Linked DNA regions of Homo sapiens: region 2 is linked to region 1. Evidence: fine-mapped expression QTL. A gene starts in region 1. The other region holds a variant in brackets. All regions are shown on one strand. Distances are between the middles of the regions. Region 1 holds the start of SPAG9 (sperm associated antigen 9). Region 2 overlaps SPAG9 (sperm associated antigen 9).

What was found. PIP is the estimated chance that this variant, and not a neighbour inherited with it, causes the effect. A credible set is the group of variants that fine-mapping cannot tell apart.
Region 2: its variant is the best candidate, but not a certain one, in a credible set for the expression of SPAG9 in naive CD8 T cells (Schmiedel 2018, PIP 0.79).

The regions. Positions count from the first base shown.
Region 1 is chr17:51,118,732-51,123,731 of GRCh38, reverse strand. It overlaps SPAG9 (sperm associated antigen 9), which reads left to right and starts at 2,864. Exons shown (of 30, transcript NM_001130528.3): 1 at 2,864-3,378. The coding sequence starts at 3,076. RefSeq lists enhancers at 1,513-1,772, 2,382-2,611, 2,128-2,942, 3,232-3,351 and silencers at 2,752-3,131, 3,382-3,461, 3,482-3,611.
Region 2 is chr17:51,022,728-51,028,253 of GRCh38, reverse strand. The region is part of intron 6 of SPAG9 (sperm associated antigen 9); the gene reads left to right. Among named protein-coding and RNA genes, the nearest start is that of SPAG9, 95 kb to the left of the region's middle. The variant TA/A (reference allele first, on the strand shown) is at 2,784.

The sequences.
Region 1 (5,000 bases):
AGATTCAGCTATGTCATGGCATGTACTTAAAATTTTTGTTTTCTTTTCTATTCTTTTTTTTTTTTTTTGGAGACGGAGTTTTGCTCTTGTTGCCCAGGCTGGAGTGCAATGGCTCGATCTTGGCTCACCACAACCTCCGCCTCCCAGGTTCAAGCGATTCTCCTGCCTCAGCCTCCTGAGTAGCTAAGAATACAGGTGCGGGCCACCACGCCCGGCTAATTTTGTATTTTTAGTAGATACAGGGTTTCTCCATATTGGTCAGGCTGATCTTGAACATCTGACCTCTGACCTCAGGTGATCCGCCCGCCTCGACCTCCCAAAGTGCTGGGAGTACAGGTGTAAGCCACCGTGCCTGGCCAAAAAAAATTTTTTTTTTTTTTTTTGTCAGGGATGAAGGTCTCACTATGTTGCCCAGGCTGGTCTCCAACTCATGGCACAAGCCATCCTCTTGCAAGTGCTGAGATTACAGGCGCGAGCCACCACGCCTACTCCCCTCCCCTCCAACGACTTTCTTTTTATTGCCAAATAATAGTCCATTGTATACCTATGTCACATTTTATCCATTCATCAGCTGATGGTTATTTAGCTGAATTTTATTTTAACTAAATGTTATCTCTGATAACTGGCAGAAGCTTAAAATCAAGACATAAGTGTGTATCTTTCTATGTTGAACGTATACCTAAAGAAGTATACTTATTAGGAATGACAATTAAAATCTCGTACTTGAAAAATCGATACTTTTTTCTTTTTTCTTTTTTTTTTTGAGATGGAGTCTCACTCTGTCGCCCAGGCTGGAGTGCAATGGTGTGATCTCTGCTCACTGCAACCTCCGCCTCCCAGGTTCAAGCTATTCTCCTGCCTCAGCCTCTTGAGTAGCTGGGATTATAGGTGTGCACCACCATGCCCGACTAATTTTTGTACTTTTTAGTAGAAATGGGGTTTCACCATATTGTTCAGGCTGGTCTTGAACTCCTGACCTTGTGATCCACCCGCCTCGGCCTCCCAAAGTGCTGGGTTACAGGCATGAGTCACCACGCCCGGCTGATACTTTTTTCTTTAAATTTTTTGATGTGTATGATAATATTGTGGAAAGAAAAAGTAAAGCCTTGCCCTATGTTTTTTGGCTCTTCTGATCCCCCAGGAAAAGAGAGGCATGCATATAGGTAGACCAGGTGAGTGACAGCCCTCAGGAAGAGAAAATAAAAGAGGAGAGATTCAGATCAAGACTTTTTCTAGTTTTCAAATATGAAAGGTTAAGAAGAGAAAGGGCATTTGCGGCTCACAGCCAACCAGCTGGTCGGCATTCCTACTACCCAAATATCTAAATGACATAAGGGTGAATGTGGGGTGAGGGTGAGAACGGGAAAAAACACAGGCCGCAAATTCAGTCCCATCTGGCACTTCATAAGACTTAGTATTTTCATCTTTGTCCTTCCAAATTTATAGGTTTACTCTTGCCCAACCTTCATATTGTTTTTATGGGTCTCCAGGTGGGTCATGCGTAGGAAACTTTAGGGGACTACTTCATACTTGGTGGGAAGTACTTAAACTTGTAAACCCCAAGCTAAGGGTAGTTATGATCCCGGTGGGTGGCCAATTCTCCCCTTAAACCTATGTTTATCCTGCCTTTCCTCCCCCTTTTCTTAAACGAGTCGGGACGGAGAGCTGAGTCACCTGAGACACAGAGAAGGGACTTTTGAGAGTGTCTTCCGTCCCATTTGCGGACGTTAGATGAGCACACCGGGATCCTTGACTCAGCCCGCTCTAGGCGTGGGCGTTGTGTCATTCCCCACACGTGACACTCTCCCAGGCGGCAGAAACCTCACTTGTCATGGGACTTATTCACTCCAGTGACTCCACCCCTTACCTCCTCTGTTCCCCAACCTCCCACTTACCCTTTCCGCCCCACTTCAAGACTTGAGGAGAGGAGGGTGGCTGGAGCCTGGAAATGTCCCCGTCCCAAGTTGGCCAGAAGTAGCAGACACACTATGTGGGAAAGTGCCACATGTAACGTTCCAGTTTCACCCTTCTCCAGAATGCTATCACCCTTCCTGTTTATTTTTTAATAACTTGAGATATAATTCACACGCCATATGATTCACTCACTTAACGTGTAAAGTTGAATGTCTTTTAGCATATTTAGAGTTGTGTATTCATCACTATAATACATTTTTTAGAACATTTTTATTATCCCAAAACGAAATCCCATACCTATTAGCAGTCACTCCCATTTCCCCTCATCTCACCCTTGCTCTTCCATAGCACAAAACAGTTCTATTCTATTCGAGACCACCTTTCCACTTGGGCAGACCCTGGTTATGGTTTTTTTTCCCTCCCTTTCTGTTTCCAGTTTTTTTCGGAGCCCGGAATTCTCAATCTGGGTAATTGGTTTGAGTCCCGGCTCAGCCCGTTTCCCGTTGTAGCTGCGTGACCTTGAGAGCAACGCCACTTTCCTGGGCCTAGTTTCTTTGTCTGTGAAACGAGGTCCAAATATCTACCTCTTTACGCCTGTTGTGGGGATGAAGTGAGTAGGTGCTTTGTGAGCTTTAAAAAGCCATAGAAATGCCAGCTAAGTTAACTCGTCACTCTTCCCGAACCCCTCCCTTTCCCCTGGGACCCGCCCCGCGAATCCCGCTGTGGATGGATACTTCTCCCCACCCGCCGACCGCAGTCTTTCCCATTGGCGCCCGCACCGTCTTCGCGGCGCCGGGTGTTGACGCCATGGCTTCCTCCGCCAGCGCCCGAAGACGCTTGGCCCCGCCCCCGGCCGCGCCTGGCCTCCCGCGGCGCCCCGCCCATCGGGCCGACGCGGCGCCGGCCCCGCCCCGCGGATGACGTGTGGCGCGCGCGGCCGGGCCGCCCCGGCAGTTGGTGCAGCGGCGGTTGGGGTGAGAGCGCCTACGCCACCCCTCCCCTCCTCCGGCCCCGGCCCCCACCCCGCCGGGCCCAGCCCCAGCCCCGGCCCGGGCTCCAGCCCTAGTACCCGTCCCAGCCCGAGTCGGGTCCGTCCCGTGCGGGCAGGTGCCGCCCCTCTGCCGGCGACGCCCCGGGCCGCCCGCCCGTCCGCTTGCCACCATGGAGCTGGAGGACGGTGTGGTGTATCAGGAGGAGCCCGGCGGCTCCGGGGCCGTGATGTCGGAGCGGGTGTCCGGCCTGGCCGGCTCCATCTACCGCGAGTTCGAGCGGCTTATCGGGCGCTATGACGAGGAGGTGGTCAAAGAGCTGATGCCGCTGGTGGTGGCTGTGCTGGAGAACCTGGACTCGGTGTTCGCGCAGGACCAGGAGCACCAGGTGGAGCTGGAGCTGCTGCGGGACGACAACGAGCAGCTCATCACCCAGTACGAGCGGGAGAAGGCGCTGCGCAAGCACGCTGAGGAGGTGAGGCCGGCGGCAGGGCGGGGGCCGCGGGATCCGTCTCCGGGGGCGGCCGGGGCGGGGTCGCGGCCCGGTCGGGGACTAGAGGCGCGACGGGCCTCCTGGAGGGCGGGCCTGAGGCCGATGCCCCCTGGGACCGATCCCGGCGGCCTCCAGGTACCCCGGGAGCCAGGCCGGCGTTGGAAGCCGAGGCCGGCTACTGAGTGTCCTGGGAAGGGAGCGAGATGGAGGAGGCAGGGCCCGGGGAGGAAGCGGCAGCCTGGCCTGAGGACACCTGGGGTTGGCCAAGGGCGGAGATTGTTGGGTGTCTGGTTGCTTCTTGTTGAGGGAAGTTTCCGACCACCGTGGGATAGTCAGATGGCGGTTCAAAGTTTTACCCTTGGGGAGGGGGACACTTCTGCCCTGGATATGTAACTTCCGCTAGTTCCAGTACCTTTCCAGGGGGTTGCCTTGCTTTGGGAAGTTAGAGATCTCCCTCTTTCGGTCAGTTTCTTCTTGACGTTTTAATCTTGTTGAGAAAGACGTCTTATTTTATGTTCTATGTGCCTTGGTTGACACTTTGTCAACTTTTAGATGTTGTGTGGCAGTACTCAATAAATATATAAACAATTTCGTTGGTATCCCAAACCAAAGCATTCCTCCGTATCAGGTTGTAACCTTGGACAGTTCCCTTCAAAAACCCTCCGTTTATTTATAAAAAGGATTGGGGGGCGGGGTTGGGAAGATGTAGGTGACAGTTGGCAACACTTTTTCCGTCTGAGTTTCCTTCTTAGACTGCTGTTTATACGTGCATTTGGCCACCTGTTAACTCTAGCACCCGAGCAGTGACCTGGGCGCCCTCACCTCGACTCTGTGAACCTTTTGGAGTTCTAGGGTGCAAGTGATAGGTCCTTGGCTTCTTGAGACTGACAAGGAGTTTAGCTTTCAGCCTGCGTTGGCGTTATTTCTGTGGACCTTATCAAAGGCAGGTGATGTGTCCTATTTTTGTTTCTCAAGCACCTAGCACACCTGCTTAAATACATGGTGATCAAAGGAGGCGAAATAACTAATTATTGAAGGAATGACATAGTATTTTTCAAAAAGACTTGAAGAGTTTTTAGGATGTGAGGTTTGTAGCTCATTTCCTGACACTGAATAGTAACACCATTAAATTTTTGTTTTATTTTGTCACGTATACCTTTGCATCTGGTTAAATAGTTCTTTTTCCTTTTTTAAAAGCTTGACTGTAGTGATGATTTTTAGTTCTGATTGTGGGATCCAATTTTCTCAAAGGAATGCTATTGAATTTGCCAAACAAAATTGCCTTTTTTTTTTTTTTTTTTTGAGACGTAGTCTCACTCTGTCGCCCAGGGTGAAGTGCAGTGGAGTGATCTTGGCTCACTGCAACCTCTGCCTGCCGGGTTCAAGCGATTCTTGTGCCTCAGCTTCCTAAGGAGCTAGGACAACACTCCCCGCTCATTTTTGTTTTTTGTAGAGACAGGATTTCTCCATGGTGCCTAGGATGGTCTTGAACTCCTGGCCTCAAGTGATCTGCCCACTTTGGCCTCGGGCTGACCATCCCAGTGCTGGGATTACAGGCATGAGCCACCGCACCCCGCCAGAATGGACTATTTCAAGAGCTTTTC
Region 2 (5,526 bases), 96 kb after region 1:
AATAAATTAACCTTAGCTTACTGTAACTTATTTACTTTATAAACTTTAAATTTTTTTACCTTTTTGATTTTTTTGTAATAATGTTTAGCTTAAAACACAAACACATTGTATAGCTCTATGAAAATATTTTCTTTATATCCTTATTCTATAAGCTTTTATCTATTTAAAAAAAATTTTTTTTTTTTTTGCTTTTTAAACTTTTTTGTTAAAAACCAAGACACACACATATTATTAGCCTTGGCCTACACAGGGTCAGGATCATCAATGTCAGTATCTTCCACCTCCACATCTTGTCCCACTGGAAAGTTTTCAGGAGCAATGACACACATGGAGCTATCACCTCCTATGATGACAGTGCCTTCTTCTAGAGTACTTCCTGAAGGACCTACCTGAGGCTGTTTTATAGTTAACTTTATTATTATTTTTAAGTAGAAGGAGGAGTATACTTTAAAATAACAATGAAAATTTTAGTAAATACATAAACCAGTGACATAATTGTTTATCATTATCAAGTATTATGTACTGTATAGAATTGCATGTACTATACTTTTATACACCTGGCAGTGCAATAGTTTTGTTAACACACTAGGGCATTGCACTGGGATATTATGACAGTTGCAACATCACTGGGCAACAAGAATTTTTCAGCTTCATTTTAATCTTATGGGACCACCACTATATATGCTGTATGCTGTCTATTATTGACCAAAATGTCATTATGCAGATGTGGCACATGATCGTATTATCTTATGAGTGTACTGTTGACCAAAAGTAGTATATTTTAATTTTTAACAGGTCAATGATTTTTTTTTTTTTTTTGAGACAAGGTCTTGCTCTGTTGTCCAGGCTGGAGCGCAGTGGTATGATCTTGGCTCACTGCAACCTCTTCCCCCTTCTGGATTCAAGTGATTCTCGTGCCTCAGCCGCCCAGGTAGCTGGGACTACAGGCATATGCCACTACACCCAGCTAATTTTTGTATTTTTAGTAGAGATGAGTTTTCACCATGTTGGCCAGGCTGGTCTCAAACTTCTGACCTCAAGTGATCCACCTGTCTTGGCCTCCCAAAGGGCTGTGATTACACACATGAGCCACTGTGCTTAGCCTCATTCTGTCTTTAGTTGGAGGCAGTTAGTGAGGTATAATGCAAGAATATTGTGCCCCTGGCCAAATACTTTGTCCGATTTCCCATCTAAGTGCTTTTCTGCTAATCTTAGAAGCTTTATGTCACCACTGCCTGGGATACCAAGAAGAAAGACCTCTTTCAAAAATGGTTTCCCGGCCGGGCGCAGTGGCTCACATCTCTAAACCCAGCACTTTGGGAGGCTGAGGCAGGCGGATCACCTGAGGTCAGGAGTTCGAGACCAGCCTGACCAACATGGAGAAACCTCGTCTCTACTAAAAATACAAAATTAGCTGGGCATGGTGGCGCATGCCTGTAATCCCAGCTACTCGGGAGGCTGAGGCAGGAGAATCACTTGAACCTGGGAGGCAGAGGTTGCGGTGAGCCAAGATTGCGCCATTGCACTACAGCCTGGGGCAACAAGAGCGAAACTTCGTCTCAAAAAAAAAAAAAAAAAAGAAAAGAAAAAGAAAAGGGCTCAACCCCTAAAATCAGAGCTTTTCCCTTCTCAGCTCTCATGCTGTATCTCTGGGATCTAGTTGTCAGAAATATAGCCCACACATTGGGCTATTTTAAAGAGTGTAAAATATTTTTATGTGGTAAGTATAAAAGGGAAGTAAGTTACATATAAGTAAATTTCATTTTATTTGGATAGCCTAGGATAAATTTAAAACATAATTTTCTTCTAAGTAGATCTAAATTAACCACTTCCTTGTAGCCTGAAACCTTGGGATTGCTGAGGTATCATGGTCCCTTTCCTGTTTTAGGTTCAGCTCTCTCCTGGTTATTTTTTTTTTTTTTTTTTTTTTTTTCTCTTTTCACCCCATGATATCTAGACTGTCTCCTGGTTATTTTATTTCATGCTCCCAGATCCACAAATGAATTTGGAAAGTAGGCCTTTGCCACACTTCATATGTTGTGAACTTTTAAATTACTAAATACAATTTTTTCTGAGGTGAAAATAACCTGCCTTTTGTGGGGAGTGGGGGACTGGAATAATAAGGAGGAAGAAGAAATAATTTCTCTATATTTAAGAGGTAAATGAGAATTCCAAGATTGACCTCAAATTATTTATTTTTGACATAGTTTCAAAGGCATATCACTTTCTCATATAGATGAACTCAATATTCTCTAGGGCTTTCTGAATCCGCCGTCTTAATGGGTTTTAAGTGCTTTCATCAACACTGTTTATCAGAAATACAGACTGTTTATTTTATATTTTTTAATGTGTGTTACGTTTGAAACTTTTAAAGAATGAGAATTCATGTACATGATAACATGGGTGCAATCTGAGCTCACTGCAGCCTCTGCCTCCTGGGTTCAAGCGATTCTCATGCTTTAGCATTCCTCGTAGCTGGAACTACAGGCGTGCACCACCATGCTGGGCTAATTTTTGGCATTTTTAGTAGAGACAGTGTTTCACCAGGTTTCCCAGGCTGATCTCAAACTCCTGGGCTCAAGTGATATGCCCACCTCAACCTCTCAAAGTGCTGGGATTACAGGCATGAGCCGACCGTGTCCAGCCAAATACCACTTATTTTTTAATCGAGTATACATCAAAGCAAAGACAATGCAAATGGTGCTCAGAGGGACTTGTAGTTGTTTTCACTATCAATCTCTTTGGCTCCAGAGGTGTTAAATACTGTCAGTTTTTTTTTTTTT[TA/A]ATTAATACTGTCAGTCTTTTTGACTCAACTCCAAACAAATGAATTTGCTGGAATTAGTAGGTTTCTATCAGATACTTTTATATTTTATATTGGGTGCCAGTTACCAATTCAAGAAAATAGCATTTTTTTTTTTTTTTTTTTTTTTTTTTTTTGAGACAGAGTCTCACCCTGTCACCAGACTGGAGTGTGGTGGCACAATTTTGGCTCACTGCAGCCTCCGTCTCCTGGGTTCAATGATTCCTCTGCCTCAGCCTCCTGAGTACCTGGGATTACAGGCATGTGCCACCATGCCTGGCTAATTTTTGTATTTTTAGTAGAGACGGGGTTTCCCCATGTTGGCCAAGCTGGTCTGGAACTCCTGACCTCAACTAATCCACCTATCTCGGCCTTCCAAAGTGCTGGGATTACAGGCGTGAGCCACTGCACCTGGCCAATTTTTTTTTTTTTTTTGAGATGAAGTCTTGCTCTGTTGCCCAAGCTGGAGTGCAGTGGCGCAATCTTGCCTCACTGAAACCTCTGCCTCCTGGGTTCAAGCGATTCTCCTGCCTCAGCCTTTTTTATTTTATTGTGGTAAGAACATTTAATATGAGATCTACCCTCTAAAAATTTTAAGTGTACAATACATTATTATTGTTTTATGTGATGGGATCTTGCTGTGTTGCCCAGGCCATTCAAGCGATTCTTGTGCCTCAGCCTCCGAAGTAGCTGGGATTACAGGCATACATGAAGTATTGTACAATTTTTTTTTTTTTTTTGAGACAGAGTCTTGCTCTTTTTGCCCAGACTGGAGTGCAATGGTGCAATCTCAGCTTACTGCAACCTTTGCCTCCTGGGTTCAAGTGATTCTCCTGCCTCAGCCTCGCTAATAGCTGGGATTACAGACGTGTGCCGCCACGCCCGGCTGATTTAGAGACGGAGTTTCTCCATGTTGGCCAGGCTTGTCTCGAACTCTTGACCTCAGGTGATCTGCCTGCCTCGTCCTCCCAAAGTGCTGGGATTACAGGCATGAGCCACCACGCTTGGCCAAAGTATTGTACTCTTAACATGGATATGCTATTTTATTTTTATATGTTGTGTAAAATATATTGTACAATATATTATAATTAATATGTACAATATACTGTAATTAATAGTGATACAGTATTGCAACTGCCATTAAAATGATGTTGACATCAGTGTGTAATTTTATCACTAATGCTTTTCCTTTTTTGGAGAGAGTCTCGCTCTATCCCCCAGGCTGGAGTGCGGTGGTGCGATCTCAGCTCACTGCAACCTCTGCCTCCCGGGTAGCTGGAATTACAGGCACCTGCCACCATGCCTAATTTTTGTGTTTTTAGTAGATTACGGGTTTCGCCATGTTGGCCAGGCTGGTCTCAAACTCCTGACCTCAGGTGATCCGCCTGCCTGGGCCTCCCAAAATGTCGGGATTTCAGGCGTGAGCCACCGAGCCTGGCTGCTAATGCCTTTCGTATTGTATTTTCAAATTTTCTATTTAGAAAAATCGGCTGGGCGCAATGGCTCACGCCTGTAATCCCAGCACTTTGGGAGGCTGAGGCCAGCAGATCGCTTGAGGCCAGGCATCTGAGACCAGCCTGGGCAGCGTGGCAAAACTCCGTCTGTACCAAAAATACAAAAAATTAGTGGGGCATGGTGACGCACGCCGGTAATCATAGGTGCTCAGGGGACTGAGGCACGAGAATCGCTTGAGCCTGGAAGGTGGAGGTTGCATTGAGCTGAGATTATGCCACTGCACTCCAGCCTGGGTGACAAGAACGAGACTCTGTCTTAGAAAAAAAAGAAGAATTTCATGTACGCCTGGAAAAATACGATTTACTTAAATATTTCCCAATTATTTGCAGAGGAGCTAGAGAGATTATTTATTGATAATCGGTGACTCTTTATTGCCTTTTAAAAAAATTGTGACTTTCTCTGGGCAAATTTATTTCTTAACCAATTTTTAAAGTACTTTAGAATAAATTACTCAATTAAAATTTCTTTTAAATTACTTCTATTTGTAGGTTGAACTTTCTGATGTTAGCCAAGGTGGATCTAAAGCTACCACTTCAGCATCAATAGCTAAATCGATGTGGCAATAATTCCTGCTGATACTCCCTTAAGGGAATTATATATAGTATATATAATTTATAATTAAAATATTATAAATTAATAAATTATAAAAATATATAATTATGTATTATAATTATACTAATAGTTACTATTATAATAGTTATAAATTATAAAAATATATAATTATGTATTTAGAATTATACAAATAGTTACTATTATAATAATAGTTAATATTTTAAATTCTTAGTATGTGTGAAACACATTGCTAAGCCATAATGTAGAATAACTTAATAAGAATCTTAAGAAGTAGATACTGTTATCTATATTTTACAGATGATAAAACAAAGGTTTAGAAAGAATACATTACTTACCCAAGGTCATACATTTAGTGAATGATAAATTCACTTAATTTACCCTAACCCTGATTTATTATTATTATTATTATTATTATTATTATTTTGAGATGGAGTTTCACTCTTGTTGCCCAGACTGGATGCGATCTCAGCTCACTGCAACCTCTGCCTCCCGGGTTCAAGTGTTTCTCCTGCCTCAGCCTCCCGAGTAGCTGGAATTGCAGGCATGCGCCACCATGCCCGGCTAATTTTTTGTATTTTTAGTAGAGACAGGGTTTCTCCATGTTTGTCAGGCTGGTCTTGAACTCCCGACCTCAGGTG